Linked DNA regions of Homo sapiens. The protein of the gene in region 1 interacts with the protein of each later gene in a pairwise test. Each region holds a gene or a part of one and is shown in the gene's direction. Other genes may lie near its edges. The genes, in order: WASHC3, PELI1, IKBIP and BFSP2.

The links.
Region 2: the proteins of WASHC3 (region 1) and PELI1 interact in binary tests that used the Homo sapiens proteins (3 or more experiments, as listed by UniProt).
Region 3: the proteins of WASHC3 (region 1) and IKBIP interact in binary tests that used the Homo sapiens proteins (3 or more experiments, as listed by UniProt).
Region 4: the proteins of WASHC3 (region 1) and BFSP2 interact in binary tests that used the Homo sapiens proteins (3 or more experiments, as listed by UniProt).

Annotation. Positions count from the first base shown.
Region 1 is NC_000012.12:102,044,335-102,052,335, reverse strand, and holds part of WASHC3 (WASH complex subunit 3), read left to right. Parts: intron 1-6,216; coding exon 6,217-6,282; intron 6,283-8,001. UniProt on the Homo sapiens protein: Acts as a component of the WASH core complex that functions as a nucleation-promoting factor (NPF) at the surface of endosomes, where it recruits and activates the Arp2/3 complex to induce actin polymerization, playing a key role in the fission of tubules that serve as transport intermediates during endosome sorting.
Region 2 is NC_000002.12:64,105,961-64,113,961, reverse strand, and holds part of PELI1 (E3 ubiquitin-protein ligase pellino homolog 1), read left to right. Parts: intron 1-1,289; exon of another isoform or gene 1,290-1,399; intron 1,400-5,582; 5' UTR 5,583-5,651; coding exon 5,652-5,722; intron 5,723-8,001. UniProt on the Homo sapiens protein: E3 ubiquitin ligase catalyzing the covalent attachment of ubiquitin moieties onto substrate proteins. Involved in the TLR and IL-1 signaling pathways via interaction with the complex containing IRAK kinases and TRAF6.
Region 3 is NC_000012.12:98,627,789-98,635,356, reverse strand, and holds part of IKBIP (inhibitor of nuclear factor kappa-B kinase-interacting protein), read left to right. Parts: intron 1-943; coding exon 944-1,061; intron 1,062-7,568. UniProt on the Homo sapiens protein: Target of p53/TP53 with pro-apoptotic function.
Region 4 is NC_000003.12:133,444,614-133,452,614, forward strand, and holds part of BFSP2 (phakinin), read left to right. Parts: intron 1-791; exon of another isoform or gene 792-962; intron 963-2,703; coding exon 2,704-2,786; intron 2,787-3,875; coding exon 3,876-4,032; intron 4,033-4,167; exon of another isoform or gene 4,168-4,282; intron 4,283-5,689; coding exon 5,690-5,851; intron 5,852-8,001.

The DNA of each region.
Region 1 (8,001 bases):
TGCTGGGGTGGGCCTGGTGTTGTGGTCCAAGGCAAAGTCCTGTGCTCACTGCCTCTCCTTCGCCCACCTGGAGGGTATCTCTCTCCATGCTGTGCTGCCTGGAGTTGGGGGAAGGGTGACATGAGTTCTGTAAAACTGTCCTTCTTACCCTCTTCAGTGTGTTTTTTCTTACTTTTGTGCTAAACCCAGTGCTGTAATTTCTCACCTGGTCTCCTTAGCTCTTGAGAATGTATTTTCGTGCGTGAATAGTTTTTCAAATGGATGTTTCTGTGGGAGGATCAGTGCTGGAAAGTCCTATTCCCCCATCTTGCTGTTGTCCCACCTTTTTCTCCTTTATGTATGATAATCTAGGGTTGACTGTAACTGATTGTCTACAATATATATTTTAGCAATTTGGATATTCATGTCAGCTGGAGACTGCTCAATGAGATAACAACTAATATTTATTGTGTACTTCCTCTGTGCTGGGCATCATACTAAGTGCTTTATGTGTATTTAATTATCGCAGTCAGTCCTTTGAGAGAGGTTTAGTTATCCCACTCATACAGATACAGAAACTAAGATGTAGAGAAGTTTAAATCATTTGCTTAGTCATTCATTCATTCAACATATCTTTGCATGCCCCCAGTAGTTGTAGCTGCATTAGCTGCACATACACAGATAGAAAGTAGCAGAACTGGATTCCCACTGATTTTTTAACTGGAAAAGTCAATATCTCATTGCTTTCTTACATTGCACTGCTTTATCTGATTAAGAAGCATGCTTATGTCAACTTCAAGTGAGAGAGTGCAGTACAAGTACCTTCTTATAGCTATATTAAAATCTATTTTTAGACTCATTCACTTCTTTGCTATGCTATGTCTGTTTGATGTAATATATTTTTATGTCAATTCCAAAGATACATGTATTCAAATGTAAGGTGCCATTTTCTCCCAAGGTAAAGTCACTTTGGTGTTTTGAAATGTTTTTGTTAATAGTGCCTAATAGGCCTCTAGTCCTTATTTATTTAAAGCCTCAAACAAGAACCAACTGACTGTTTCTCTCAACAAAAGAGGAACCTCAACTGTTAGTTTTTGAACTGAGAGTGAACTGGGAGGAAAAAGAAAACTTTTCCCACCCCCCGACAGGATCTGGTTTGAACCAAACCCAACCTTAAACAACTTCAGTCACAGATAAACCCTCAAGCCAGAATTAAGTTTGAAACAAATTGCTAGGGTTCTTTCTTCATCAGTGGCACTGTTTCTAGAGTTCTTCATTAAAGAGAAGAGTATAAAACTGCATTCTGTGAAGAACTCAACTTTGCAAAAACTTTCTGCATATTAGGCTACTTTTGTAACTCTTCCAGTGATTGGCACCAGAGTAGAAGAGAGATTAGATGACAGAGAAAGTAGTAGAATCAGACCCACATTACAGAGGTACTTAGGGTCATCTCCTCTTCCATCACAAATCCCCAGTGAGCATTTTTATTCTTGCTTTAGTCAGCAAAATCTTATGGTCATCCATTGGGACTGCAAATTTTGAGGGGTTGGCAGGAAGCAACATAAGCTCTATGCATATTGCAGGTGAAACCTGAGCATTTAACCTTATAGTGAATTTTAAAGTCAAAGGTACTTTATAAACAGGAGTGCCAAATGTGTTACTTTGGTTTTTTGTTTGTTTGTTTAATAATTTTTTTTTCTTTTCTTTTCCCCCCGAGACGGGGTCTTGCTGTATCACCGAGGCTGGAGTGCAGTGGCGTGATCACAGCTCAGGGCAACCTCAACTTCCTGGGCTCAAGTGATCCTCCCACCTCAGCCTCCCTAGAAGCTTGGACTATAGGCATGTGTCACCACACCCGGCTAATTGTGTGTGTGTGTGTGTGTGTGTGTGTGTGTGTGTGTGTTAGAGATGGCATCTTACTACATTATCTAGGCTGGTCTCCAACTCTTGGGCTTAAGTGATCCCTCGGCCTCGGCCTCCCAAGTGCTGGAATTATAGGCGTGAGCCACTGTACCTGGCCAGAATGTTATTTTAATTCAAACTTTTTTTGTTGTTTTTTTGTCAGACAGGGTCTCACTTTGTCACCCATGCTGGAGTGTAGTGGAGTGAACTTAGCTCACTGCAGCCTAGACCTCCTGCCTCAGCGCCCCAAGTAGCTGGAACTACAGGTGCGTGCCACCACACCTGGCTAATTTTTTGTATTTTTTGTAGAGACAGGGTTTCCCTATGTTGCCCAAGCTGGTCTTGAACTCCTGAGCTCATCTGCCTGCTTCGGCCTCCCAAAGTACTAGGATTACAAGCACCCTCAGCCAAACTCAGACTTATTACATGCCTAAGATACTGGATTTTTAAATAATTTTTTTAAATTCTGAAATTTTTCTTTTTTCTAAAATCTTTAGGTACAAGCAAAAGTGCTGAGAATTGTCACATAACCTGAAAGTTTCTTTAGTGCTTATCTTCTACATTCATTTTTTTAGCCTGCCATTGGACTTAACCTTTAATCAGATAATATTTTGCTTAAATCCTTATTTGCTCTTATATCTTTAACCACTGCTGGGCTTAAGTATCAGACACAACCTAATAAAACCATTCATTGCTTCCTTTTCTGGCTTCTGGGGCACACGCAACACAGTGGGGTATACCAAGAGATCCATTATCTTAAAATACTGTTTCTCTTTTAGAGAAATGGATATATAAACAAGATATTTTACAACCATGAAAAACCAGCATTTTATTTTGTTTCCATATTCAACTAGTAACTCCATATTTCCTTCTTTCTTTTGTCCTTTTTTTTTTAACTTTATAAAATGTACTGCCTTGGAAATACATGGGTAGTAAATCAAGCTTTCAGCTTATCTGACAAATATCAGGGACTTTGTAAATTCCCCTGTTATCCCAAACCATAGCATTTCAAGTTTGTTTTCAGTCTTCATGAAGACGATGGTTAAATGGATGGGAAAGACTGTTACCTTTCCATTTCCTCTTGCTAAAACTTTCAGAGGTGAGAACAGCTACTGTCACCGATTATGTTACTTATGTTATATCCACAGTCATCCATAATTTAGAGCAGTGGCTCTCAACCAGGGGACATATGGCTATGTCTAGAGGTGTCTTTGATTGTAATAACTGGGGAGTGCTACTAGCATTTAGTGGATAGAGACCAGAGATTCTGCTACCCATCTTGTAGTGCTCAGGACAGTCCCCTGCAGCAAAGAATATTTCACCCACAAATGTCAATATAGCTAGCATTGAAAAACTTGTTTTATAGTGGTCTGGGGATTGTATAAGGAAAATGCCACAAGCATACACATCTTAGAAATGAACTTCAGCAGCCCATAAATGAACCCAGGTATACCTTTTCACCTGACAATGGCTCTTTAAAAAGTATACATTCAGGTATGTTATACCAATAATTACACTGGAACATACAAAACCATTTATTATACTGAATTATCTTTGAAAAGTAGTTCTTTCTTAATCATGCCATGGACCCTTTGACAGTCTAGTGAAACCAAATTAATGTTTTCAGGTGGATAGAATAAAATGCATAGGATTACAAAAGAAACCAGTTATATACTTAAAAAAATTTAAAACTATGACATACTAGTAGGTTCTTTATTAAAGCATTAAATTATATAATCCTTTCATATGTCTAATAACCTTAATTTTGAAGTATAAGGAAATCTGCAGCAATTGTGATGTGATTTAAAAAAAAAACTATGATTTCTATTGGTGACAGTCTTAGATCCTAAAACCACTGTGATTTTTTTTCTTTTTCTTTTTTTTTTCTTTTGAGACGGAGTCTCACTCGTCGCCCAAGCTGGAATGCAGTGGCGTGATCTCAGCTCACTGCAACGTCCGCTTTCCAGGTTCAAGCGATTCTCCTGCCTCAGCCTCCTGAGTAGCTGGGACTGCAGACGCACACCACCACACTTGGCTAATTTTTTTTGTATTTTTAGTAGAGTTGGGGTTTCACCATGTTGACCATCCTGACCTCAGATGATACACCTGCCTCGGCCTCCCAAAGTGCTGGGATTACAGGCATGAGCCATTGTGCCCAGCCTATGGTGATTTTTTTTTTAACTATGTTTTTAAACAATGCTGAATTTAAGCTAGAAGTAGATAAAAATAAAGGTAGAATTTTTTCTCTCATCCTAGTTCATGTACTGTAGTTCAGAACCACTTTGTAAATGATCATCTCAGAATCAGAAGAGCAAAAGGCTTTTCCTCTTGGCACAGAATCATCTTAGTGAGAAACGAATTGATCATTTGTTAGCTTTGGATAACAAAAATTCTGTGCAATACCCAAGAATTTACCATTATGTTTTAACAGTGTAAAATTATCTCAAAAAAATCTCGTGAAGTGTATTGCCTCTGGAGTTGGAGGGTTTGAGTTCAGGATATTTTACTTGTATGAGACTCAATTTTCTCATCTTTAAAATTGGCATAATAGTTCCTACTTTATAGATTTGGTGTAAGATTTCAATTGATATGTTGCATATACACTGTACCATATGTAGCAAGGTAAATACTCAGATATTTACAGTATTGATGATTATTGCTTAAAAGTAAATATATAGGTATATTAAAACAGAAAAATTTTTAATTCCATTTTTTTGTTTCCTTTTGTGTTTCCTTCAATCAAACCAATATGTCCATTTTTAAATAAGTTGGAAATTCTCATTCACTTTACATATTAATTTGCTGTGGAATTTTTTCTCTAGTGAATTGAGACTGATTAGATTTGCCAAAATTAAATTTCTATGATTTTAAGGAATACACTTATAATTTGGAGAGGGATTCATTCATAATACATGTTATAAACCTGTATTGGTGTTTACCTAAAAGCCTTATGTGAATGAATTCTAGAAGTCAAGGGTAAACTTAGCTTTGATACCATGAAAACTAGATCCTAATACTTTATTTGTAGATTATGTCTTTGTCGATATCAAGATGCTAAACTAAAAATAAGTGATCTGTAAAGAAGCACTATCTGCTTTGTGGCCACTTTCAGTTTTTTGCCCCCTCTAATTGTGGGCAAAGTGACCATTTCACAGGATGGTAAAGTTCTACTTAATAGTCAGGATCTTAATAATATCCCAGAATACAATCAGGATGCTGTGTATCTGCCAGCTTGTAAACTGGGCAACTGCTCTTGGATTATGTGACTGAATATAATGTTTAAGATTAGGAGGTTTCAAGTAAATGTTCTTTACTTGAATGGTCATATTTTATGATGCTACCTTTCTTTGTATAGGTGTATATTTACACAGAGGTACATTGACAATTTAATTATACAGAGTAACAAGCATGATAAGCTCTTCTATCTGGTTTATCTTGCATTTTGATAGTAGATTTTAATACTCTAGTTTTTTCTCTTCTCTTTCCAAAATGAATTACTCATCTTCCAATTCCATTCCCCTTTATTTTTCAAACTACAGATGTTTAAATCTGGGACGAATTGTATATGCTGATGCATTTAAGTAATTTATAAAGGCAGACCTTGTTGCAGCGTGTCTTTGAATAATTTTTATTCTTTTATTTTCTATGAAAAAATTTCTTCATTCATCAACAAATAATTATTAAGCTCCTATTAAGTGTCAGGGTACTATTCTGGGCACTAAAGGTACAGTAGTAAACAAAAGGCTCTGTCCTGGTTTGTTTATATTCTGGTCTCAACAATTGTTTACTGCTCTGATAATGAGTTTGCAGAAAATGTCAACTTTGTTATAAGTGAATATAATTTTATAAAATAACTGAGAAGCGACTGGGTGCGGTGGCTCACGCCTGTAATCACAGCACTTTGGGAGGCCAAGCAGGCAGATCACGAGGTCAAGAGATCAAGACCATCCTGACCAACATGGTGAAACACTATCTCTACTAAAAATGCAAAAATTAGCTGGGCGTGGTGGCACGTGCCTGTAGTCCCAGCACTCGGGAGGCTGAGGCAGGAGAATCACTTGAACCCAGGGGGCAGGGGTTGCAGGGAGCCGAGATCGCACCACTGCGCTCCAGCCTGGCGACAGAGCAAGACTCCGTCCCAAAAAAAAAAGAAACTGAGAAGCATTATAATACACGTAATAGAAGAGTTCTCATTCCTACTCATGTAAATAAGACAGTACTGTATTAGAATATGACAAATATTTAATGGTTTTTAATATTTTCATATCTGCCCTTAGTTATTGTTAACAGTTTATTTTAATTAAAGTCTTTATGTCTCTAATTTTTCTTTTACAGAAACTGGCAGACCTTTCACTTCGTATCCAACAAATTGAAACAACTCTCAATATTTTAGATGCAAAGGTTGGTATTTCTCAATAATTTGTAGTATAAACTTTGCTGTGCATATACCAGCTTTCTTAATCATACTTAATTTTCATTGCATTTGGGAGTGATTCCATTTAACTTCTGTATCTGTGAAGTGATACTGGTTGTGTTTTTAATTTTACTGCAGTTGCAAAGAAAATGGTGTTCATTATGAACCATTAATTCAAATGTACACATGGTTTGCGATTTCTTTCATTGTGCTAGGCAAACGCATAATGCGAGTAACATGTTAACAAGCTGAGCTGTTATCTAGTTCACTTCATTTGATAGAAAATTCCAGATTTATTTTACTAGTTATTATTTGATAATACAATACTAATATAAATCTTTAGATGTCTCAGAGCAAATTTTAGAGACAATATCAGCTGTTTCTATTTGCAGATACCTTAAATGCTAATGAGGAATACCAGTTTTGATGTCAGAAATTGCAAATAATAACTAAGAAAAATAGAAGACTGTTTTAGATTGCAAGCTTAAAGATTTTGATAACAGTGATGTCTTTGGTTTCATTTTTAATATTTTTTTACATGTGTTTTTTCTGTTTATAAAGTTATGGAGACACTAGTGTATTTTCATGACTAACTTTCCTGAAGTTAATATTTTCTTTGTCCATTTACCAAAATAAAACTAAGAAATATTCTGTAAATATTTATGAGGAAGAAAAAAATGATATCCCTTTTTAATATGACCAGAATGTCTAGTTTGTACTTTCTACGTCTCTTTATGGACTTCAGCAACTGTGTTTCTCTTAGAACATTTCTCTAGTTTGGAAACCCGGTCTTGAACATGTTCAAGATAGTCCTCTAGCAGCCATACCCACTTGAAACTATTTGGGCCATAGCCACTGTGCTAACTATGGTTATCAGTCAACAGTTCTCAATGAGTATTGCTGCTTGAGATCTTATTACCATTGGTTTTTTTTTTAATTATTATTCTTTATAATGAATATGTGTCTTATTTTAATGTGAATATGTGTCTTATTTTAATGTTTAAGGAATTCCTGGGAGTTAGAGTCCAAGGTCGCACATTAAATGACCATATGGACAAGTTAACCTTAGTTATTTCCATGGCCATAGAGTCATCCCCAAAGTTAGCCAAACATCGACAAATGCGTGTCATTGATATCAGGATGAACTCAGAAAAGAAGGTTTGTATGGGTCTCGCAGATCTAACCTGAAATGCTTAACTATTTCATAGTGAAAGCTAAACCATTTCAGGTTGAAATACCAACAATATGCCCATTTTTTTGCATAGAAGAAACATATTTTAATAACATTCAGTGGTGAATGTTCAAAGAAAGAAAAAAGAATGAGCTGTGTCACACATTAAAGTGTAAAGACAAGAGTTTTGTCATATCCTAGATAATTGAAACTCAAAATTTGCACAAAGCCCTTTTTTTTCGAAGTATTATCAATAGAAATATTTTTACAACAACTTTTCTAGGTACATGTTCTTATCTCCACTTTACAGGTGAGATAATTGAGACACAGGGAGTTTTACACAAGATCACACAGCTTGTGAGTGGTAGAGCTAAAAGTTAAACCTGACAGTCTGACTTCAAAGACCAGGCTCTCAGTCCTTACACTAGGATTGTCTATATTTTGAAAATGATGGTTATGTAAACTAAATTAGATTTTTGAGAAGTTCTTCAAAAGAATTTGTGACCGTCTTTCACTTTTAGTTTATGACATGGAA
Region 2 (8,001 bases), on another chromosome or scaffold:
TTGTACTTGTGTTTAGTAGGTAGTAAGCAAAAGGCTGTGTGTGATGTAAATAATGAAAGAAAACATTTGTTAGGTTGAGAGACAAAGATTGATTTCTCAGTTTTTCTTCTTTAGGTGAAACTGACAGATATTATACAAAGTCTTTCCTTTGGGAAGACTTGATATGAAAATAATTGTATTTCACTGGCCCTTAAAAAGGAAATGATTAGAATGTTTAACAGTCAAATTAATAATACTATTCCTAATAAATACATATTTTATGAGTAACTTTTCATGTTCTCCCAGCCCACAAAGAAAATAACACTATTCCAGAATATGTTTATTTTAAAATTTTTTTTTAACTCTGGAAGTTTAGTTCCTGCTAATGAGAGCAACATGCTTTCGAGTATCAAGCAAAGTTTCAAAGTAATAGATAAAATAGAAGACAGTTTTATTAGGAAGATTTTCTTTAGCATTTCTTCTAGTCTTGAGTAGAATTAATGGTGCTATTTCATGTTCTTGGTGCTAGATAACATTGGGATAGGGCTGAATACATGAGGTCAAACTAACTTAATTGAAGACCAACAAATGAAGCCAGTAATCGAGACATTCGGATGTTTTTTATGTACATACTCATTTAAAGTTCTCAAGTACATGACTTCAGGAATTTTTTTTTTTTTTTCTTTTTTTTTGAGACAGAGTTTCTCTCCGTCACCCAGGCTGGAGGATCACAGCTCACTGTAGCCTCAAACTCCTGGGCACAAGTGATCCTCCCACCTCAGCTTTCTGAGTAGCTGGGGCTATAGGTGCATGCCATGACATTTGGCTAATGTTTTCTGTTTTTACTTTTTTTTTTTTAAATCTTTTGTAGAGACGGGAGTCTTACTATGTTGCGCAGGCTGGTCTCAAACTCCTGGCCTCAAGTGATCCTCTCACCTTGGCCTCCCAAAGTGCTGGGATTACGGGCATGAGCCACCATGCCCAGCCTAGGAATTCATTTTGAAGAATTCTTTTACTCAGATTTTAAAATATAGAGAGAATATATAAAGACAGTGAGTAGGAAAGCATTGTCTAGGTACTGGTCTTTGTTAAAGAGTATAAACCTTTGGGAAGATCATGAATCTTTCTTCAGAGAACACATAAAAAAAAAAGTTCCAGGAAGAATAGCTGTCACAGCATTTTATTTGCAGTTTAATAAGGCCAGTTGTATATTGATTGATTATATGCCATTTTTAAATTTTGAAAACTATCTTGGGTCATTTATGTATATAAATAACTGGTACTACAAAAGTGTTTTATTTTGGGTTTAGATTATCAAATACAGAAGTAGAAGCCAAGATTGAATGTGTTCCTGTGATTGAAACTTTGATGTCACTGATAAAATATCCCCAGATAAGGCCTTCTAAGAGATCTAAGCAGAGTAAGAATATGTCTGATTGGAAATATATTGTTTTTCTTGGCTAATTTGACCAAGGGCTCTAGAAATTATATGGAGGGTATATGCCAGCCGTACTCTTGTTTTTTAGTTTCTTGTCTAAGCAAAAAAATTGTTCTTTTGCTATAGACGCAATAGAACTAAATCTATAGTGTTATGCACGTTACTTGTAAATTCTTATGTCAGGACCAAATGGTCGCTTATATTTTTTCCAGCTCCCAAATTCCCTTTATTCCACTTTAGTCCCTTCATTTTCAGAGATGAGGAAACAGATTGCTTTGTTCAAAGACAGCTAGAACTAGAACACAGGCTAATACTTGCTAGCCATGTGATATACTAATGTCAGCCAAATACGGGCATTTACACTTTCAGATGTTTGCCATATCTGTGCACTTACTAATTCTATTTAATACAATTTAAATTGACTCCTTTAAATAAGCTTATTTTAAAGGAAATTTTTTGCTACTATAAATAGAAAACCATTATATCCTTTAAATAGTAACTCTAAATAGGAATTCAAAACAAAGCAACGTTATTAAAATTTAATTTAAAATTAATTTAAATTTAATTGTTATTAAATTTTTAATTATTGCTGTTCTTCGTCAGAAATGTGTCAAAGCATTGTTTTCATGTTTGATGTCAGTTCCTTAATTGTCTAAACAGAAAAAGCACAGCTAATGCCTCTAGTTAAGCTTCTGTATAACTTTTTTAAATGAAATGCTTCTTAGAGGGGAAATGAGAGGGCATGAATACATGTTTATATACTAAAGTATGATTTCATGTATATCAGAAGATCTTATTATATGGAACCAAAATTATTCTTTGGTTGATTTAATTGTTCTTGAAACTTCAGTTTTTACCTTGAAGGTTTTAGTTAGCTTAGCATAAGTTTATTTTTCTAAATAAGGAATCTGATTGCCTCACAACTCAGATGTATCACAGTTATGGTGAAATAGCAATATATTGGTTTCTGTAACCTTTTAAATACCGTAATGAATTAAAATCTCTTCAGCAAAAGCAAATATATCTAGGGTGACGAGAGGTGTTTTTAGTGTATTTGAATGATGGAAATGTTTTTCTTAAAATATTTCTGAAGCATTTTTTAAAATAATTTTTTGAATTTATTGATGATAGTAGTTGTGTGTTAGTGTGAATGACTGGTCTAAATGTGTATGTCACTTCCAAGGGATTAGTAGGGGTCAGAATGATTTGTTTTATTCATTGACTTTTCCTTTGACGTGTTCTTATTCATTGGGCTACATACATTCCCTGTTGCCTTCTCACCAAAAGTGCCACTACACAGGCTGTATTTCATTGTACTGTAGAAAAAGACAAGTAGACCTTTTTCATTCATGAGATTCCTATGAAATCTGTTGGTGGAGGTATAAAATGAGGAGACTTTTATGGGCTAGCTAGTAGGAGTTTTGCTGTGAAACCTTTGTAACAGGTCTATCAGGAACTAGGGAGAGAAATAAATGCAGGAAATACTTGATCCCATTAAACTGAGGATGAAAAAGACATGATAATATTTTGGGGATTATTTATTGTGTGATTTTCCGGCTGATCAGAAGTGTTAATTTTTTGTTATACTTGTGTCAAATACATATATATATATATATTTTGAAATGGAGTCTTGCTCTGTCACCCAGGCTGGAGTGCAGTGGTGCGATCTGGGTTCACTGCAACCTCTGCCTCCAGGTTCAAGTGATCCTCCTGCCTCAGCCTCCCGAGTAGCTAGGACTACAGGCACGTGCCACCACGCCCTGCTAATTTTTGTATTCTTAGTGGAGATGGGGTTTCACCATGTTGGCCAGGCTGGTCTTGAACTCCTGACCTCAAGTGATCTTCCCACCTTGGCCTTTCTGAACTATTTCCTTTACACACATTTAGAACTACATCTAACTGTATTATAGTTTTCACTTTCACCATCAGACAAAATTCAGAAGATTCAAGAGAAGGAAAGTCGATTGTATTTACTCATATTTTTGCTACCGTGTTTTTACATCTCATATTTTAAGGTTCTTTTATTTATTTATTTTCTGTTTAGTTAATTTCCTCTAGCCATTCTTTATTTATAGTGGGTCTGCTGGTAACAAATTCTCTCAATTTTTCCTCGTCTGAGAATGTCTTGACTTCCCTTCCATTTTTGTCAGCACCTGAAAAATACTATGCCACTATCTTCTGGGTTCTGTGGTTTCTGATGAGAACTCCACTGTCAGTCTAATTGTCGTTATAAATGCAGTGTTCTCTCTCTCTCTCTGCTTCCAGGATATTTTTTCTTTTTTTTTTTTTTTTTTTTTCTTGAGACGGAGTCTCACTCTGTCGCCCAGGCTGGAGTGCAGTGGCGCAATTTTGGCTCACTGCAAGCTCTGCCTCCCGGGTTCAAGCGATTACTCCCACTTTAGCCTCCCAAGTAGCTAGGACTACAAGGCACACCACCATGCCTGGCTAATTTTTGTATTTTTAGTAGAGACGGGGTTTCACCATGTTGCCCAGGCTGGTCTCGAACTCCTGACATCAAGTGATCTTCCCGCCTCCGCTTCCCAAAGTGCTGGAATTACAGGCGTGAGCCACTGCTCCCAGCCTCTTTATTTTTTCAGCTTTACTCTTTCTTCTGTCTTTTTGACATGTGTGTCCAGTGACACACGTGTTAGATTTTGCTATAGTCTCACGCACGGGTCTATAAGGCTCTGTTTTTTGTTTCATTTTGTTTTTCCTATTTTCTCTCTATTCAGATCGAGTAATTTCCACTGTTCAGTTTTATCATAGCTGCTTTTAAATCTTTGTCAGGTAATTCTGTCATCTAAGTTTTGGCACCTATTGATTATCTTTTGCATTGTTTTTGTTTTTGTTTCTGTTTTTGTTTTGAGATGGAGTCTTGCTCTGTTGCCCAGGTTGGAGTGCAGTGGCACTGATCTCGGCTCACTGCAACCTCCTCCTCCCGGGTTCAAGTGGTTCTCCTGCCTCAACCTCCTTAGTAGCTGGGATTACAGGCATGTGCCACCACGCCCGGCTAATTTTGTATTTTTAGTAGAGACCAGGTTTATCCATGTTGGTCAGGCTGGTCTCAAACTCCCAACCTCAAGTGATCCGCCTGCCTCGACCTCCCAAAGTGCTGGGATTACAGGCGTGAACCACTGCACCCAGCCTATCTTTTGCATTGTTTTAAATCTTGTTCTTGCTAGGATGAATGATTTTCTGTTAAAACTAGATATTTTCATATTATGTTCCTAGGCTCTGGATATTATCTAAACCTTCTGTTTCCACTGGCTTTTATTGACACTGCTTTGGCAAGGTCATAGGGGGTGCCTCATTACTGCCAGGTGGACATAGAAGTCAAGGGTCCCTACTCAGCCTCTACTGATGCCTCAGGAAGAGGATCCTTCTTGTTATTGCTGGGTGGGGGTGGAAGTCTAGCTGACACCTACTGAGGTAGGTGCTGGGGCATGCCCGGCCATCAGGGTGAAAGTCCTGGCTCCCTAGTTGGCCTACTTTTACATTGCCCTAATAGGGCATTGGAGCTCCTCACTATGGTTTATGAGCTGGAAGTCAAGGCTCCTCACTTAGCTTTCGTTGGTGTGGGTGGTGGTGGGGCAAAACTGTTTTCTGGGTTTGGCTGGAGTGGAGCAGTTACTGTCAAAAGTTTTCTGTCTTGCCAGGCTGTCCCTTTCTTGTTTCTTTGGCTAGAGAGAGCAAGCTTTTGTTGTGGCTCTTTTTGTCTGTGCCAGTTGGCATTTCCAGGTTGCTGCCTTCTTTAGCTCCAAGTCTGGGATATATTAGGCAAAAAGAAAACCCAGAGAATTTACACCACCGTGTCATTCCATGGGTCCTGAGGTCCCTTACTTAGTCTGCCTTCTCTCCACTTTTCACAGTCTTCTCATGTTTTGTATATAATGTCCAGGGTCTTTAGTTATACTTAGCAGAAATAAAAGGGAAAAGTATGTCTGCTCTATGCTTCTGTAAGTGGAAGTCTTCAAATTTGCATTTTTGATTCCTTTAAACAGTTTTGTAAAATATATAATCATTATTGGGCAAAATGTCCCATAAAATGTATATACCTTGTGATGGTTTGCATAATATTGTGTTCAAGAGGACTGCTGAAAAATAACATCTTTATTTAAACTGAAACGAATTGTTCACATTATTAATGAAAACTTTTCCCCTCTAGGAAATAATGCAAAAGGTGTCCCAAGGCTCCTGACCAGTGAACAAAGATTTGAGAAAGACAGCCAAGCTCATGTTTTCTCCTGATCAAGAAAATCATCCATCTAAAGCACCAGTAAAATATGGTGAACTCATTGTCTTAGGGTAAGGTTTCTCCATTTGATGACACACACAGTTTAATAATATATGCTAACTTTGGCATCTAGGCTAAAAGTACTTTTTTTTTTGGAATTTATATCTTACCTGCTTCCAAAAAGAATTTAAAGCTACAGGTAATGTTACCAAATCAAGAAACTCTTTTACTTCTCATATTCATGCCATCTTTTAAAAGCACTCAAATATGACATAAGCTTTGTCTCACCCTTACCCACAGAAAGGGCAGAGTTTCTCAAAGATGAAATGGAAAGTCCGGGCATGGTGGCTCACGCCTGTAATCCCAGCACTTTGGGAGGCCAAGACAGGCAGATTACCTGAGGCCAGGAATTCGAGACCAGCCTGGCCAACATGGTGAAACCCCATCTCTACTAAAAACACAAAAATTAGCCGGGCGTGATGAGGCATGCCTGTAATCCCAGTTACTTGGGAGATTGAGGCAGGAAAATTGCTTGAACCCTGGAGGCAGAGGTTGCAGTGAGCTGAGATCGCGCCACTGCACTCCAGCCTGGGCAACAGAGTAAGACTCTGTCTCAAAAAAAAAAAAATGAAATGAAATGAAAAATGTTATTTATCCACTGTCACAGTCATTCCATTTGTCTTCCCTATCCCATGTTTTGCCTCAGCTGACTTTACCAAAAATTCCCTTTCCCTTCCCTGCTTTAAGTCATTTCATGTAGGTTAGTCTTCATTTATTCTTTTGCCTCTCTACAGTAGTTATTGCTTTGTGCTGTACATTTGGGTTAAAGGAGTTGTATATGTGTATGGTGACAGCATAATGCCTCTGAAGCCCAGGACCTAGCTACTTCTTAGCTCCTAACGTAATTTCATCCATGTAACTCACAGAAATAGAATCTGAAGATTGAGGAATAGATGATTCTGTTATTCCAAATTATTTCAATTTATTCCACTTAAACTTGCCATTAACTATCAAAATGGAGACACAGTATTAGCCTTTCCTAACTAGAGATCTCAGAAACTAGAAAATTGCTCATTTTAGGCCAGGTGCAGTAGCTTATACCTGTAATCCCAGCTTACAGGTGGGAGGCCTAGGTGGGCAGATCACCTGAGCTCAGGAGTTCGAGACCAGCCTGGCCAACATGGTGAAACCCCATCTTCACTAAAAATACAAAAATTAGCTGGGCATGATAGTGCATGTCTGTAATCCCAGCTACTTGGGAGGCTGGGGCAGGAGAATCACTTGAACCCAGGAGGAGGAGGTTGCAGTGAGCTGAGATCAGCGCCACTGCACTCCAACCTGGGCAACAGAGCAAGACTCCGTCTCGAAAAAAATGAGAAAAAAGAAAATTGCTAATTTTATTTTCCCCCTACTGTTTCCCTCCTTTTGCCTAAAAAGCAACTCTAGATATTGCGGTATGTTTGAGAGTCAGGTTGTTAAAGTGAGAATGCGTTGTTTCAGTTGAGATAGTAAGAGAAACTGGGGAAATCATATGGAGTTACTGAGCTTGACTGGATGTTAGGAATCCTAGAATCCGGTGCTTGTTCAGCACTGCTAGCTGTGTGACCTTGGGCAAGTCACTGAACCATCCTGGGCCTTAGTTTCCTTGTCTGTAAAAATGACAGATAAGATCATCTAAGGCCCTTTGAGACTTAAAATTCTTTTCTCAGAAACAAAGCTTTAAAAGATCATAAATTTAGCATAGTAACTACAGTATTAGAACTTCAAATCACATAGATTTTAATGGTATCAATGACAAACAGCTCTTAACTACCAAAAACTTTTCCAGATTAAATTCTTCTAGCAGGAAATTTGAGAGTCATTTGAAGAATAGTTTAATATTTAGCTTAGGGTTTTAAACCGCCAGTCTTAGCCTATGGGTTCCTCAGTTAATCATTAGCAACAGTAATTGTCTCTGTGTCTGGTACTTGGTGTCTTAAAATGCAGATAATTTTTCTTCTCAACCCTCTAGAAGTGAAGCTGGACAAGGTTTCATGCTGTTGCTGCTTAGAAAAGAGCTTTGAACTACAGGAACGCAATGTGGGACTAAAGAGCAAGATCCAGAAGTGGGATGAGTCATGCAACTCAGAGGACAGTAGTGAAGGGGCAGTGAGGAATCGACAGAGGGTCTGGGGGCAATACAAAGCCTAAAATAGCTAAAATAATTATTAGCTAAGGGGCTGTACTTTGGACTTACAGCAAGGCTAGCAACATTACCAAGGGCTTTCTCCAATACAAAGTATTTTATTTTTTATAAAGGGTCAATGTAGTTTCTATATATGGCAGTCATTGAGTAAACTCTCTTCTCAGC
Region 3 (7,568 bases), 3.4 Mb from region 1:
TTGGGAGGCTGAGGGGAGGATCACTTGAGGCCAGGAATTCAAGACCACCTTGGGGCTGGGCACAGTGGCTCATGCCTGTAATCCTAGCACTTTGGGAGGCCAAGGCGGGCAGATCACTGGTCAGGAGTTCAAAACCAGCCTAGCCAACATGGTGAAACCCCATCTCTACTAAAAATATTAAAAAATTGGTGGGGCGTGGTGGCAGGTGCCTTTAATCCCAGCTACTTGGGAGGCTGAGGAGGAGAATCGCTTGAACCCAGGAGGCAAAGGTTGCAGTGAACCGAGATCGTGCCATTGCACTCCAGCCTGGGCAACAAGAGCAAAACTCCATCTAAAAAAAAAAAAAAATACCGGGCGTGGTGGCTCACGCCTGTAATCCCAGCACTTTGGGAGGCCAAGGCAGGTGGATCACAAGGTCAGGAGATCGAGAGCATCCTGGCTAACACAGTGAAACCCCGTCTTTACTAAAAATACAAAAAATTAGCCAGGCGTGGTGGCAGGCGCCTGTAGTCGTAGCTACTCGGGAGGCTGAGGCAGGAGAATAGCGTGAACCCAGGAGGCGGAGCTTGCAGTGAGCCTAGATCGCGCCACTGCACTCCAGCCTGGGCGACAGAGTGAGACTCCATCTCAAAAAAAAAAAAAAAAAGGCTAAAGACCACCTTTGGCAACATAGCGAGATGGACAGTCCTAGCTATTTGGGAGGTTGAAGTAAGAGGATCACTTGAGCCCAGGAGTTCAAGGCTGCAGTGAGCTATGATTGTGACACTGCATTCCAGCCTGGGTGACAGAGTGAGACCCTGTGTGAAAAAAAAAAAAAAAAAACCTACAGCTACCCATACCAGAATTTATGTTGTTCTTAACAGAAGTGGGTATAATTCTCCTTTGAAATTCGGATTTAAATGGATATGAATTGGAGAATAGTGATTTTTCTTTTCTTTTCCAGGTTTGTATTTCAGCAGTCAGAAAAATTTGCAAAGGTGGAAAACCAATACCAGTTACTGAAACTAGAAACCAATGAATTCCAACAACTTCAAAGTAAAATCAGTTTAATTTCAGAAAAGGTAATCATTAATTGGCTTATCTGGGACGGTTTTCCCATTTTACTACCCCACTATCATTTCTCTATCCCAGCTCAGAACTTCTTTCTTCCTGCCTTTTAGACCATCACTATTTTAACTCTCACTGATCTTCCTACCTCTTGACATTCTCCCTCTGAGCCATTTTGACTCAGATTGCATTTTGAGGGGCAAGGATTTTTTAATATGATAATTTCTAGTATTGAAAAAGACCAATTTGTTCATATTAGCATGATGTTAATTTTCTACTTAAGTGTCAGGTATCTAGAGCATTGAAAATATGGTTGATCATGTCTACAGCCATACCACCCTGAATGCGCTCGATCTCATCTGAAAATATGGTTGATCTTTGGACATAAAATTAGAATATGAATAGCACTTATTGGGAAAAGATCTATCCATTTTTTCCCTTACTTTTTGCTTTTTAAGGATATATGTACATGCATTTAAGAATGGCTAGCCTAGGCTGGGAGTAGTGGCTCATGCCTTTAATCCCAGCACTGTGGGAGGCTGAGCCAGGCAAATCACTTGAGGTCAGGAGTTAGGAGACCAGCCTGGCCAACATGGTGAAACCCCATCTCTAGTAAAAATACAAAAATTAGCTGGGCGTGGTGCACACGCCTGTAATCCCAGCTACTCGGGGGGCTGAGACAGAAGAATCTCTTGAACCTGGGAGGTGGAGGTTGCAGTGAGCCAAGATCACACCACTGCACTGTAGCCTGGGCTATAGAGCGAGGATCCGTCTCAAAAAAAAAAAAAAAAAAAAAAAAGAATTAAAAAAAAAAGAACGGCTAGCCTAAAAGTAACTATTTGTCCTGTAGCCAAATAAGAATTCCAATGAAAATTAAAATAATACCATGTCTATATTGTGTTCCTTCAAGTTGCTGATTTCTACCAGATGCGTTATTACTGTGATTCTTAGAAATGTGAGACAAATAAACATTTTTGTAACTCCCACACCTCTCAGGAGAAAGTCAAAGTCAGCTGTGATCAATAAGGCATCATGTAGGCCTATTCTGGGTACCAGGGACCAAGCTATCATTGGGAAATATGGCTTTTTGTTCATTTATTCATTCACTAAACCTTTGCTCATGTCACAAGGTAAGCAAGGACCTATGCTTGGCACCAGGGTGGGTAAGGATGTTGTAAAAATAGAGATGAAATGGAGCATCTAAGTCCCTGCAGCCCCATGCACAGGATGAGCATATAATCCTCCAGAAGAGAAAAGCCATGGAGGAAAATTAAGTATCCCTCACAAATGCCAGGGGATTCCATGGATGGTGAGTGTAAGGGATTTGGGGAAGGAGCTGCAAAGGAGTTGGTATTTTCACATAGGGCTCAAATTGGAATCTGAGCCAGGCGTAGTGGCTCATGCCTGTAATCCCAGCACTTTGGGAGGCCAAGGCAGGCGGATCACCTTGAGGTCAGGAGTTCGAGACCAGATTGGCCAACATGGCGAAACCCTGTCTCTACTAAAAATACAAAAATATTAGCTGAGCATGGTGGTTCATGCCTGTAATCCCAGCTACTTGGGAGGCTGATGTATGAGAATTGCTTGAACCTGGGAGGCAGAGGTTTCAGAAGTGAGCTGAGATCATACCACTGCACTCCAGCCTGGGCAACAGAGTGAGACTCTGTCCCAAAAAAAAAAAAAAAAAAATTGGAATCTGGTTGTAGCTGTTGGGGGAACTCTAACATACCATTAGAAGAAATCCCAGGGGCAAGAAACTTCATATATATATATATATATATATATATATATATATATTTTTTTTTTTTTTTTTTTTTTTTTTTTTTCAGATAGAGTCTCTCCCTGTCATCCCAGCTCTCACTCTGTCATCCAGGCTGGAGTGCAGTGTTGGAATAACAGCTCAACCTCCCAGGCTCAAGCACTCCTCCCAACTCAGCCTCCCAAGTAACTGGGACTAACAGGCACGCCACTGCACCCAGCTAATTTTTTTTTCTTTAATTTTTTGGAGAGACGGGGTCTTGCTACATTGCCCAGGCTGGTATCAAACTCCTGGCCTCAAATGACCTTTCTGCCTCTGCCTCCCAAAGAATTGATATTACAAGTGTGAGCCACTGTGCCTTGCCAAAACTTCACATATTTAATTAAAAGCTATTGAAGGCCGGACGCGGTGGCTCACGCCTGTAATCCCAGCACACTGGGAGGCCGAAGCAGGCAGATCACGAGGTCAGGAGTTTGAGATCAGCCTGGCCAACATGGTGAAACCCCATCTCTACTAAAAATACAAAAATTAGCTGGGCGTGGTGGCGGGCGCCTGTAATCCCAGCTACTCGGGAGGCTGAGGCAGGAGAATCACTTGAACCTGGGAGGTGGAGATTGCAGTGAGCTGAGATCACGCCATTGTGCTCCAGCCTGGGCAACAGAGTGAGACTCCATCTCAATAAATAAATAAATATAAATAAAAGCTATTGAAAACTTATTTTGAACAAGATTTCTCCTTTTTTTTTTTCTTTTTTTTTTTGTGGGGGAGGTCAGGGGTGGTACAGAGTTTCACTTTTCTCATCCAGGCTGGAGTACAATGGCTCGATCTTGTCTCACTGCAACCTCCGCCTCCCGGGTTCAAGTGATTCTCCTGCCTCAGCCTCCCGAGTAGCTGGGACTACAGGTGTGTACCACCACACCCGTCTAATTTTTGTATTTTTGGTAGAGACGGGGTTTCACCATGTTGGCCAGGCTGGGCACGGTGGTTCACACCTGTAATCCCAGCACTTTGAGGGGCCGAGGTGGGTGGATCACCTGAGGTCAGGAGTTCAAGACCAGCCTGGCCAACATGATGAAACCCCATCTCTACTAAAAACACAAAAATTAGCTGGGCATGGTAGCGTGTGTCTGTAGTCCCAGCTACTCAGGAGGCTGAGGCAGGAGAATCGCTTAAACCGGGGAGGCAGAGGTCACAGTGAGCCGAGATTGCACCACTGCACTCCAGCCTGGGCAACAAAGTGAGACTCCATCTCAAAAAAAAAGCTTTTGAAGCAGATTTTTAAAATATCATTATAGAATCCAAAAAATATTCAGTCTTGGCCAGGCGTGGTGGCTCACACCTGTAATCCCAGCACTTTGGGAGGCCAAGGCAGGTGGATCACCTGAGGTCAGAAGTTCAGGACCAGCCTGACCAACATGGAAAAACCCCATCTCTACTAAAAGTACAAAAAATTACCTGGGCATGATGGTGCATGCCTGTAATCCCAGCTACTCGGGAGGCTGAGGTAGGAGAATTACTTGAACCTGGGAGGTGGAGGTTGTGGTGAGCCGAGATCATGCCATTGCACTCCAGCCTGGGCAACAAGAGCGAAACTCCGTCTCAAAAAAAAAAATGAAAAGAAAAAAAAGAAATATTCAGTCTTTTCGTAGCTTTTTCTCCCATTCTGCCCTGGGAGTAATTTAATAAGAGGTCCCTTTTCACAAAGGTGGCCCTAAAGGGCAGCATAACCCAGATGGAGGGGAAAACAGCTAGACATGGACACCCATCCCAACTGTGTGACCTTAGACAAATCACTATAACTTATCTTCATCTCTATTTCATCATTTATTAAGTGAGAAATAATAAGATTTTTATAAAGATCAGATGAGATATACAGTAAGTCCTCAACGTCATCAATAGGTTCCTGGTCATCAATAGGTTCCTGGAAACTACGATTTTAAGTGAAGTGTATAATGAAACCAATTTTTTTCTCATCTACGTTGTAATGAAAGGACATCGAAACAACGTTGTTGGAGGAGCTGCTCTGAATAGTTCCACTTAAAGTCAGTTTCCAAGAACCTACCAATGACGTTAAGTGAGGACTTACTTTATATACAAATTCTTTGAAAACAATCAAGCACTAATAAAGTACTAGCTCTTTTTTTTTTTTTTTTTTTTTTTTTTTTTTTTTTTTTGCCCAGGCTCTTGTTGCCCAGGCTGGAGTGCAGTGGGGAGATCTGGTCACTGCAACCTCTGCCTCCTGGGTTCAAGCAATTCTCCTGCCTCAGCCTCCCAAGTAGCTGGGATTACAGGCATGTGCCAACATACCCGGCTAATTTTTTGTATTTTTAGTAGACATGGGGTTTCACTGTGTTAGCCAGGATGGTCTCAATCTCCCGACCTCAGGTGGTCCACCCGCCTCAGCCTCCCAAAGTGCTGGGATTACAGGTGTGAGCCACCGCACCTGGCCCTACTAGCTCTTTCTTTAAGAAAAAATGAGACCCGGTGTGGTGGCTTATGCCTGTAATCTCAGCACTTTGGGAAGCTAAGTTGGGAGCATCACTTGAGCCTGGCAGTTTGAGACCAGCCCAGGCAACATGGTGAGACCCCATCTCTACAAAAAAAATTTTTTTAGTAAATAAAAATGAAAAACGATTAGAATATGTTGGTGGCCCATAAATGCTAGCTACTGTGGCATACTAGTCACTAAATATTTGCAGATTAAATCTATAACATCTTGCACTTACTTGGGGTATACTGCTTTCAGATTATAGTGAGGCTCTGATGAACCTCCTAAACAGGACATTACCTTAGGTGAGGATAAGCTTGCCTCTTCAAAATACTGCTAATAAAACAACTAAACCTAACCATGTTAATGGTTAGTATTTCTCATAATTGATTTTAAAAGGAACTTGTATTATGGCTGTATGTGTACATTTAAAAGAGGTTTTTATTTCTTTGGATTTTTTTGTTTGTTTTCTTTAAATGTGTGTGTGTGTATGTATGTATGTTTGAGACAGGGTCTTGCCCGGTCACCAAGGATGGAATGCAGTGGCATGATCATAGCTCACTGCAACCCTGAACTCTTGGGCTCAAGGAATCCTCCCACCTCAGCCTCCCAAGTAGCTGGGACTACAGGCGCACACCACCATGCCCAACTAATTTTGTTTGTTTGTTTGTTTGTTTGTTTGTTTGATAGAGACAGGGTCTTGCTTTGTGCCCAGGCTGGTCTCAAACTCCTAGGCTCAAGCAGTCCTTCTGCCTTGGCATCCCAACATGTTGGGATTAAGGCGTAAGCCACCATGCCCAACCCTTAAAATAAATTTTAAACAACATTTCAGAGTGGTGTTAGTCATTCTTGTTGCATACTCTTTAAGTCTTGATTGGGGTGGACCTAGAAGGCTTAGGGTCATTCTTCCTAAGCATCAACAAACATATTCTTTGTACTCTGAGATGTAGGGATTACACAGAGGCATAAGACATGGTCTCTTCTCCTTTGAAATTTAGAAGCTTTCACATCTTCACCCTGCTAATTCATCAATCAGTCTGTTAATGATTCCAATTTTGGAGCCACTTCCAGGCCTTTTCGCATTGCCCTCCTAACTTTTTATCTCTCCTCAAAGCATCCATTGCCCCCTGTGCTAATTCTTTTGTGACGCTACTTATAATCTACTGTGATTTTTTTGGTTGCTAGTTTATCTCCTTTACTCCTCTTTAGAGCATACACTGCATCTTTTATCTCCATTTCCCTAGTACCTGATAATGGAACTACCTCACACAGGGTACTCAGTAGATCTTGTTGGGACTCTAGAATATATGATGTGGAAGATCTAAACACTGTCTCCCAATCAAATTGTGAAATCAAGGACTATGCTGTATTTGTCTCCACTGTCTCACACAAGGCTGGCACAGAGTGAACCCTCAAAATTTTTTAATTGTATGTGCTAAGAGGCAAATATGTGGCAAATATATGTGTAATAGGTGCTACAGGAATTCAGGTTGTCAGGGCTAGGGCTATGGAAGAAATGCTGCTCTGAGGAGCTGAGATCCGGTCTGAGCCTTGAAGTAAGGACAATGTAACTAAATAAAGAGGAGAGGAGGATAGCATAGGGAGAGGTTAGAGAATTTGAGACTTTATCCTAGAAGTATTAGGAAACATCAAAGGTTTTGTAACAGTGTACCATGATAGGCATACCAGTTTTTAAAAGCTTAGTCTAGTAGTAGTGTGTAGGCTAATTTAGAGAGCAAGCAACTGGAAGCAGATATTAGATATTACTTTTTCTAAAATACTTTCCTTCATCACTGAAGTCTAGGTTGGGTCTCCACCTGAGTGCTTCCATAGCTCTTCACCTGTCATAGTGCATATACACTTGTCTTTCTCGTCGATTAAACAAAGCTGCTTAAGGGCAGTATTTTGTATCTTGTTCAGTATTATGTCTTCAGCATAATGCTGCAAGCACATAATAAATTAATGATTATTTCTAGGCCTTCCTGTAGTCTCTAAAGCTGTTATCTAAGTGTAGACTAAAAGAGGTCAATGACTTGGCCTTCTATATTCCAGATACAGATTAGGAGGTGCCGGAGGCTTAGCATAATTTACAAATACTTAAAACACTTTACCATTCAATTTGACTTGTCTCACTAAACTGTTTTTTAATTCATTGTTGCCTTTGTATCTGTAAGACCTGATTCTAGTACTTTCTCTGCAAGAGGTTGGTCAAAAAAATTTTTTGGCAGAAACCCTTCCAGAATTATAGGATTTTAGGAAAGATATCAAATTGTA
Region 4 (8,001 bases), on another chromosome or scaffold:
GCCCCACCATGCTCTCTACAGCTCAGGATGAAACGGAGCGGTCACCCCTAATTGTTTTCCCTCACTCTCCCCATAACTACTGCACCACAAAGAACCGACTGTTCTATCCCCCAAATGCATCTTAAACTAGTCCACATTTTTCCACCTACCCTATGATCACATCGTTCGTCCAGGCCACCATCATTAATAAAATGGGCTCCCTGGACCACCGCAAGAGCCTCCCGACTGGTTCTTTGGCATCTTCTCCTGCCTCCTCCAATCCTCTCTTCCCACAGTAGTCAGAGGGTCCACTTAGTGCACAGATCACCTCTGTAACCTGCTCAAGCCCTTTCAAAGGCTTCCCAGTAAATCTCAACTCCTTTCCATTGTGCCCAAGGCCTTCCCTCTATGGTCTGGTCTTGTCTACCTTTTTAACCTCATCTCCTACAGTAGCGGCTGGTTTCTCAACAAACAGGACAGAGCCTGGCATAAACAGTAATTATGTGCTGAAGAAATTAAGGCAAGAATGAATGAGTGAATAAATAGAAAAGTTTCATGGGGAAGCCGTGTTTGAAATGAGCATTATACTGGAGCAGGCTTTCTCAGACTGAGGGCTGGGAGTGGGGAGGTAGTGAAACAAGTTGCTCTCAATGGAGGCAGCAGGTGCAAAGGCACAGAGGGATTCCAGGTGCAGCAGGGAGGCAGCTAGAGCAGGCCTGGGGGCAGGGCCATGTGAAACCGGGGTTCTCAAGGTTGAGTATGCATCATAAGCCCCTGGAAAGCTTGCTGAGACACAAATTGTTGGGACCCACCTGCAGAGATTCTGATAGGTCCATCTGAAACAGGAGCTGAAAAGTGCATTTCTCACAAGTTCCCAGGTGATGCTGCTGCCACTGGTCCAGGGCCCACACTTTGAGAACCACTAGTGCAAAGTACAGTCAGTCCTTCACATCCATGGGTTCCACATCCATGGATTCAACCAACTGTAGATCAAAATATTTTTTAAAAAATAGATGATTGCGTTTATACTGAACATGTGGGCTTTTTTCTTGTCATTATTTTCTAAATAACACAATAAATAACAACTATGTACATAGCATTTCCATTGTATTGGGTATCATAAGTAATCTTGAGATGATTTAAAGTATATGGAAGGATGTGTGTGTAGGTTATATGCAAATACTACATCATTTTATATAAGAGACTTGAGCATCCGTGGGGGACTGGAACCAAGACCCCATAGATACCAAAGGACAACTGTACATAGGTTTTCTATAAGCTTTAATTTTGGAGGGTAGGAATTGTTACCTTAAAAGAAGGATATAAATCACTATTTTAAGCCAATATTAGTCCTTTGATACTTAAATGTGAATGAGTTGCAAGTTCTTTATCAACCAGAAGGAGAACTCCAGGCACCAGAGGTGAGAGACAGGAGTGATTAAGAACTGGGAAAGGGAGACACCCTAGTCTGCCTGCTCCCCAGTGTGCCCCAGGCCAAGCTGGAACAGAAATGATTAGCTTTGCTAGTGGGGAATTCAATGAAAATGGCAGGGTTTGGTGGCTTACACCTGTAACCCCAGGACTCTGGGAGGCCAAGATGGGTGGATAATTTGAGGTCAGGAGTTCGAGACCAGCCTGGCCAACATGGTGAAACCCCATCTCTATTAAAAATACAAAAATTAGCTGGGCGCAGTGGCACATGCCTGTAATCCCAGCTACTCAGGAGGCTGAGGCACGAGAATATCTTGAATCTGGGAGGCAGAGGTTGCAGTGAGCAGATATTGTGCCACTGCACTCCAGCCTGGGCAACAAAGCAAGACTCTGTCTCAAAGAAAAAACAAAAAAAGTAATTCAATGAAATGAAACAAAATAAGACAGCCACACTGGAGCAAGGGGAAAGCAGTTATTTTCTTCTCCCATAGCTGGGATTTGGCTCCACCCTGCAGGCTCCCCCTATCAGAGCCTTCAGCTCACCATTTATATATATATATATATATATATATATATATATATATATATATATATATATATATATATATATATATATAAAGGAGTTTCTTGGGTTGAAGGGAGGACACCCCTCATTCCCTACCTGTGGGAGATCCTGAGAGGCTTGGGGATTCAAGTTTGAAAAACCACTCCTCAAGGCTCCATGAAACCCCTAAACTATATCCACAATGTTTATGTTCACGTGTATGTTTTGGGGGAGACGAAACTCTAGAGCCACGCTGCCCAATACGGTAGCCACGGGTGGCCACCATGCTGGACAGTGCAGACAGAGCATTTCCACCGTCACAGGAAGCTCTCTCAGCACTCATCTAGAGCTTTCACCAGCCTTCCAAAGGCATCCATGACCAGAAATTTTAAGAGCTGCTAGGCAAAGCCAGTGAAACTTCATCTAAGGAGCCGGACTCTGCCCTGGAGAGATGAAAGCTTGTCACTGTGACAGAGGCTATGAACAAGTCTGCCTTTGAATAGTCTTTTTGTGCCAAAAATCCCACTCTAAAAACTCTTAGAAGATATCCAGATTTTATGCCTTATTATTTATATCCCCCCACCCTGACCATTGTCCAAAGAGAGGGACATCTTAATTCCACAAATATTTGCTGTAAGAAAGGTTCTCTGAGGTCCCCCAGAGCCTCTGTGCCTAACACAAGTCATGGTGGTAAGTGATCTTGACGCTCCCAGTGACCTTGTCTCCTTTGGTGTGTGTGATCGCTCTAGGTGGGTGAGGCAGTCTTGGAAAATGCCCGGCTCATGCTGCAGACAGAAACTATCCAGGCCGGAGCAGATGACTTTAAAGAGAGGTAATGTCTTACAGCAGAGGCGACAGTCCCTCCACATCCCTAGACTCCTAGGCAAGTGTGGATAATGCTGTTCTGGAGCCTGCATCATCCACCTTCTACCTCAGGGGAAGCTGGCAGGATAACAGAGCCATGATTATCCAGCTCACACCCCTCCTTGTAAACATAAAGTAGGCCCCAAGGGCTCAAAGATTTTGCCCACTGTCAGTTGGTTTAGAGCAGGGTTCTCAAACTCTGGAATGCTCAGAATCACCCAGGGGCCATATAGAAAACAGAGATTGCTGCGCCCCACCCTGTTGAATTTCTGACTCAATGGGTCTGGAGAAGGGCCCCAAATTTATATTCCTAACAAGTTCCCAGGGATGCTGATCCTGCTGGTCCTGGGACTCAAATACTTTGAGAACTACTAGCTTACAGTAATGATTCTCCAACCTGGGCATATCAGAATTACCTGGGCACTTAAAAATGTCAGTGCAGTGCACAAGCCATAGACTAATTAAATCAGAGTCCCCAGGGGTTGGGTCCAGGCTTCAGCAGTTTTAGAGCTCACCAGGTGACTTAATGTGCATCCAGGCTTGAGAACCGTGCTCAGCTACACCTCCCACTCAGTCCCTGAAGGCATCTGGGTTTGCAGCCACTCTCCTGGAGATGGACACTTTTAACATGGGTGCTTTGGAGACAGAAACCACATTTCTTATTTTGGGGTCCCCACCCTGGTGCTTAGCAGGTTGTCAGTAATGTTTGTTAAAGGATCCTTGGTTGAAAAGGAGGACAATCAGGATAGCGATGAAGATGCCGGATCCCCTAACCTGGATCTGAACTCCTGAGTTTTCCCTGGAGTTCTGTGTTGCAACACTCCCATGAGGCTGGTAGCCCGGGAAGCCAGGTTATCAGAAGTTGGCTGCAATTGCCTTCATTTTAATAAATCAATGTGTGACAACTGCACTAACAGTGCCCTCAAATCTATTGAAACAGTGACTTTTACCATTCATTGTCTAACTATCACATAATTGGCCTGTTGGTAACATTTATAATCTGATTCTTTTTCTTTTGGGCTACTCAGTTATGCTAATTAAGTTCCTTTATCTGCAGATATGAAAATGAGCAGCCATTTCGAAAGGCGGCAGAAGAGGAAATTAACTCTCTGTATAAAGTCATTGATGAGGCTAATTTGACTAAAATGGACCTGGAGAGTCAAATAGAAAGTCTGAAAGAAGAACTTGGCTCTCTATCAAGAAACTATGAAGAGGTAGGAGGGGGCTGGGGTTGCTGGGTTGGCCACAAGACCAGAAGTTCACATCTGTCTGCCTGTGCTTCATAACAAGGCCACAGTAGCTCATTTCTGACTCTCCACATTGCGTGCCCAGGACTGCAGGGAACATACCTGTAAAATACTTTCAGATCCTTGAAGTGGGTCAGGTTACCCCAGCAGTCTCAAACTCAAATAGCTTCAGGAACCAGTGTGGTACAGAAACAGGGGAAGGCAGCCAGTCTTGGCACTAGCAAATGAGGGAACTTGTGTTAAATTAGAGGGAGCAACCCCTCCTCAATGCATTCTATGTCAGGTTTTTTTTTCAACACTGTATTATACAAACAAAACAACTCTGAGGGTAGATCCAAGCTGTGGTTGACATCTACTCATTAACAAAACTGGGTCAGATTATTGAGTGACAGAACTGAAGAGGACCTCCAACAGTTATGGGGTCTAGTTCCCTGCGAGACTTCAGCAATTCTAAACCACCTCACACATATTACTGTCTGATCCAAGATTTAGGCTGCTTCAAGTTGAAAGAGTCAAAACCCACTTAACGATGCTCACATTGGGAAGTTCTTTCTTGAGACCAACTTAAGCTAACCAGCAACTGTAAGCCCATTTCTTCTTGTTCTTAGCTCAGTGATTTAAGACTACTCTCCAACAGTAACCATTTAGAGATGCCAAAGTTATCTTTTAAGTCTCTTTCATCCTTGTCTGGCTTTATGCATAAATGCCCTGTGCTGTTGTTGCTTACTTTGTTTTTGTTTTTGTTTTTGTTTTATTTTACTTTAAGTTTTAGGGTACATGTGCACAATGTGCAGGTTAGTTACATATGTATACATGTGGTTTTTTGTTTGTTTGTTTGTTTGTTTGTTTGTTTGTTTTATTTTGATTTCTGCTTTGGGCCTGGGCTTGTGGAGACCAACCTAAGAAATGCATCCTTGGTGCTAGGCATGGTGGTTCAAGCCTGTAATCCCAGCACTTTGAGAGGCCAAGGCAGGGGATCACTTGAGCCCAGGAGTTCAAGACCAGCCTGGGCAACATGGTGAAACCCTGTCTCCACTAAAAATACAAAAATTAGCTGGGCATGGTGGTGTGTGCCGTGCCTGTGCCTGTAGTCTCAGCTACTCAGGAGACTGAGGTGGGAGGACTGTTTGAGCCCAAGAGATGGAGGCTGCAATGAGCTGAGATCATGTCACTGCACTCCAGCCTGGGTGACAGAGTGAGACCCTGTCAAAAAAAAGAAGGAAGGAAGGAAGGAGAGAGAGAGAGGAAGACAGACGGAAAGAAAGAGAGAAAGAGAGAGAGAAAGAGAAAGAAGGAAAGAAGGAAAGGAAGGAAGGAAGGAAGGAAGGAAGGAAGGAAGGAGGGAGGGAGGGGGAGGGAAGGAGGGAGGAAGAAAGAAAGAGAGAGAAGGAAAGGAAGGAAGGAAGGAAGGGAGGGAGAGAGGGAGAAATGCATCCTTGGGAAAAGAGAAATTACACTTACGCTGGGAAGAAGGTCAGGGACTTTCCCAGTCTCTGTGAAGCCTGTGTCTGGCAGTTGTGGAATGAGAAAAGAATTGCCCACAGAGCTGGTTTTCTGCTGGCTAGAATTCTATGCCATTTATTTCCCCCCGTAACTCATCTAAGATGTATATTGTTGTTTTCAGGATGTGAAGCTGCTGCACAAACAGTTGGCAGGGTGTGAGCTGGAACAAATGGATGCTCCCATTGGCACTGGTCTGGACGACATCCTTGAGACGATCAGAATTCAGTGGGAGAGAGATGTTGAAAAGAACCGGGTGGAGGCAGGAGCCCTGCTCCAAGCTAAGGTGAGAGGCAGGACCAGCATCCTCCACTCTGCCCTATGCAGAAGGAGGCCACGCTGAGCTGCAAACTAGTCAATGTGCAGACGAAGAAATAACAACGGTTTAGTAACAAGTTCAACCTCATTAGAAACAGAAGAAATGAAAATTAAAATAATAGCTTTTTGTTTACCTATCTAAAAGTAGAAAATGTTTAAAATGGTAAAAATGCTGGCAAGTATGTGGAGAAGTAGGTTCTCTACTGTATTACTGAAGAGCATAAACTAGTGCACTGCCTTTGAATAAGAAATTTAGTAATATGCACCAAGAGTGTTAAAATGCCCCTAGCTACCAACTGAATAATCTGAATACAATCCTGAAAGAATAATTGAGGCCGGGCGTGGTAGCTCACGCCTGTAATCCCAGCACTTTGGGAGGCCAAGGCGGGCGGATCATGAGGTCAGGAGATCGATACCATCCTGGCTAACAGGGTGAAACACTGTCTCTACTAAAAATACAAAAAATTAGCCGGACGCATTGGCAGGTGCCTGTAGTCCCCGCTACTCGGGAGGCTGAGGCAGGAGAATGGTGTGAACCTGGGAGGCGGAGCTTGTAGTGAGCCAAGATTGGGCCACTGCACTCCAGCCTGGGCAACAGAGCAAGACTCTGTCTCAAAAAAAAAAAAAAAAAAAGAATATTTGAAAAAATAAATCATCTGTGTCCAAATATACTCACTGAAGCATTATAAGAGTGAAAAAAACATACACATTTACTAGTAGAAGAAAATCTAAGCCACAACCTACCTATGTGCAGTAAAATATCAGGCAGTTATTAGAATTAATGTTTATGAAGCATTTATAAAATAGGAATGTGTTCATAATATGAGGTAAAATGAGGAGAAAATGAGAGTACAGAATGGTATATGCCAGAAGCCAAAAAATATTCTCTGTAAAGGACCAAACAGTAAATATTTCAGGCTTCTTGGGCCAGATGGCCTCTGTTGTAACTCCTCAGCGCTGCCACTGCAGTGTAAAAGCAGCTGTAGCCAATAGGTAGCTAATGAGCATAGCTGTGTTCCAATAAAACTTTATTTACAAAAATAAGCGGTGAGATGGATTTGGCCTGTGGACTGCAGTTTGCCACTTCCTGGTATATACAGTAGGGTAAAGCATTCAAACAAAGAAACTAGGCATTGAGAAAAAATTTTAGAAAGAAAAGACTAAAATGGGATTAGCAGTCGTTGCCTTTGAGTGATGGATCAGTCTGACACTTTGAGATGTTTTTTCTTTTTTGTTTTTGAGTATTTCTCAAGTTTTTGTTAAATAGTATACATTATATTCATGGAAGAAAAACAACTTTTATTAAACCTCATAAATAATACAGGAATTAACCAGAAAATAGGATGCATAGGGTTTGTTCTTCCCTTCTCCATCTCCCACCCATTTCTGACTTTGTAATCTTGAGACAGAGGATGAAAAGTGACAAGGAAGGAAAATGTGGAAAAGTAGAGAAAATAAGGTAGATGTCTGAGTTAAGGCAAAAGGCTGTTTCTGAGCTCTTGATTACTATTTAGTGGTTCTTGATCCTGGCTACGCAGCAGAATTATTTCAGAGCATTTTCAAAAATCGCCATCCCAGACCAACCAAATCAGACAGAGGAGAGGGACTTTGTGATTTTTAAAGCTCTCTGGATGATTCTAATATGCAGCCAGATTTGAGAACCATAAGAATTATAAAAAGCTATGAAAAGAAAAATAGGAGAGGCTTTTCTGTCCTTTCTCCCACCATACTCCCTCTATCCCCCAAGTATCAACAAGAACCTTCCCAGCAGGGTCTTCATCAATTCTGGATTCCCAAAATGTTCTCCAGCCTAGAAAACATCCTTTCACTCACCCATTTCTCCAACCCCTACCCCGTTTCAATAGCTTCCTTTCTTTCTAACCACCAATCATTGAGCCAGGTCACTACAAACACTTTTTTATGGCAAATAGAGCCTAGTTATTCAAAAAATGACTTCCCCTCGCCCCACCCAACCTGATGAGAAGTGGAGCAACACAGAGGTAAAGTGAAGCCATAGATTTGAGTTTGGTCCATTGCCTTTTTTAACAGACTCATGACAGATAACAGATAATTAATGGTCCTAGAGACCATCTGATCCCATTCCCTAATTTTAGGTGT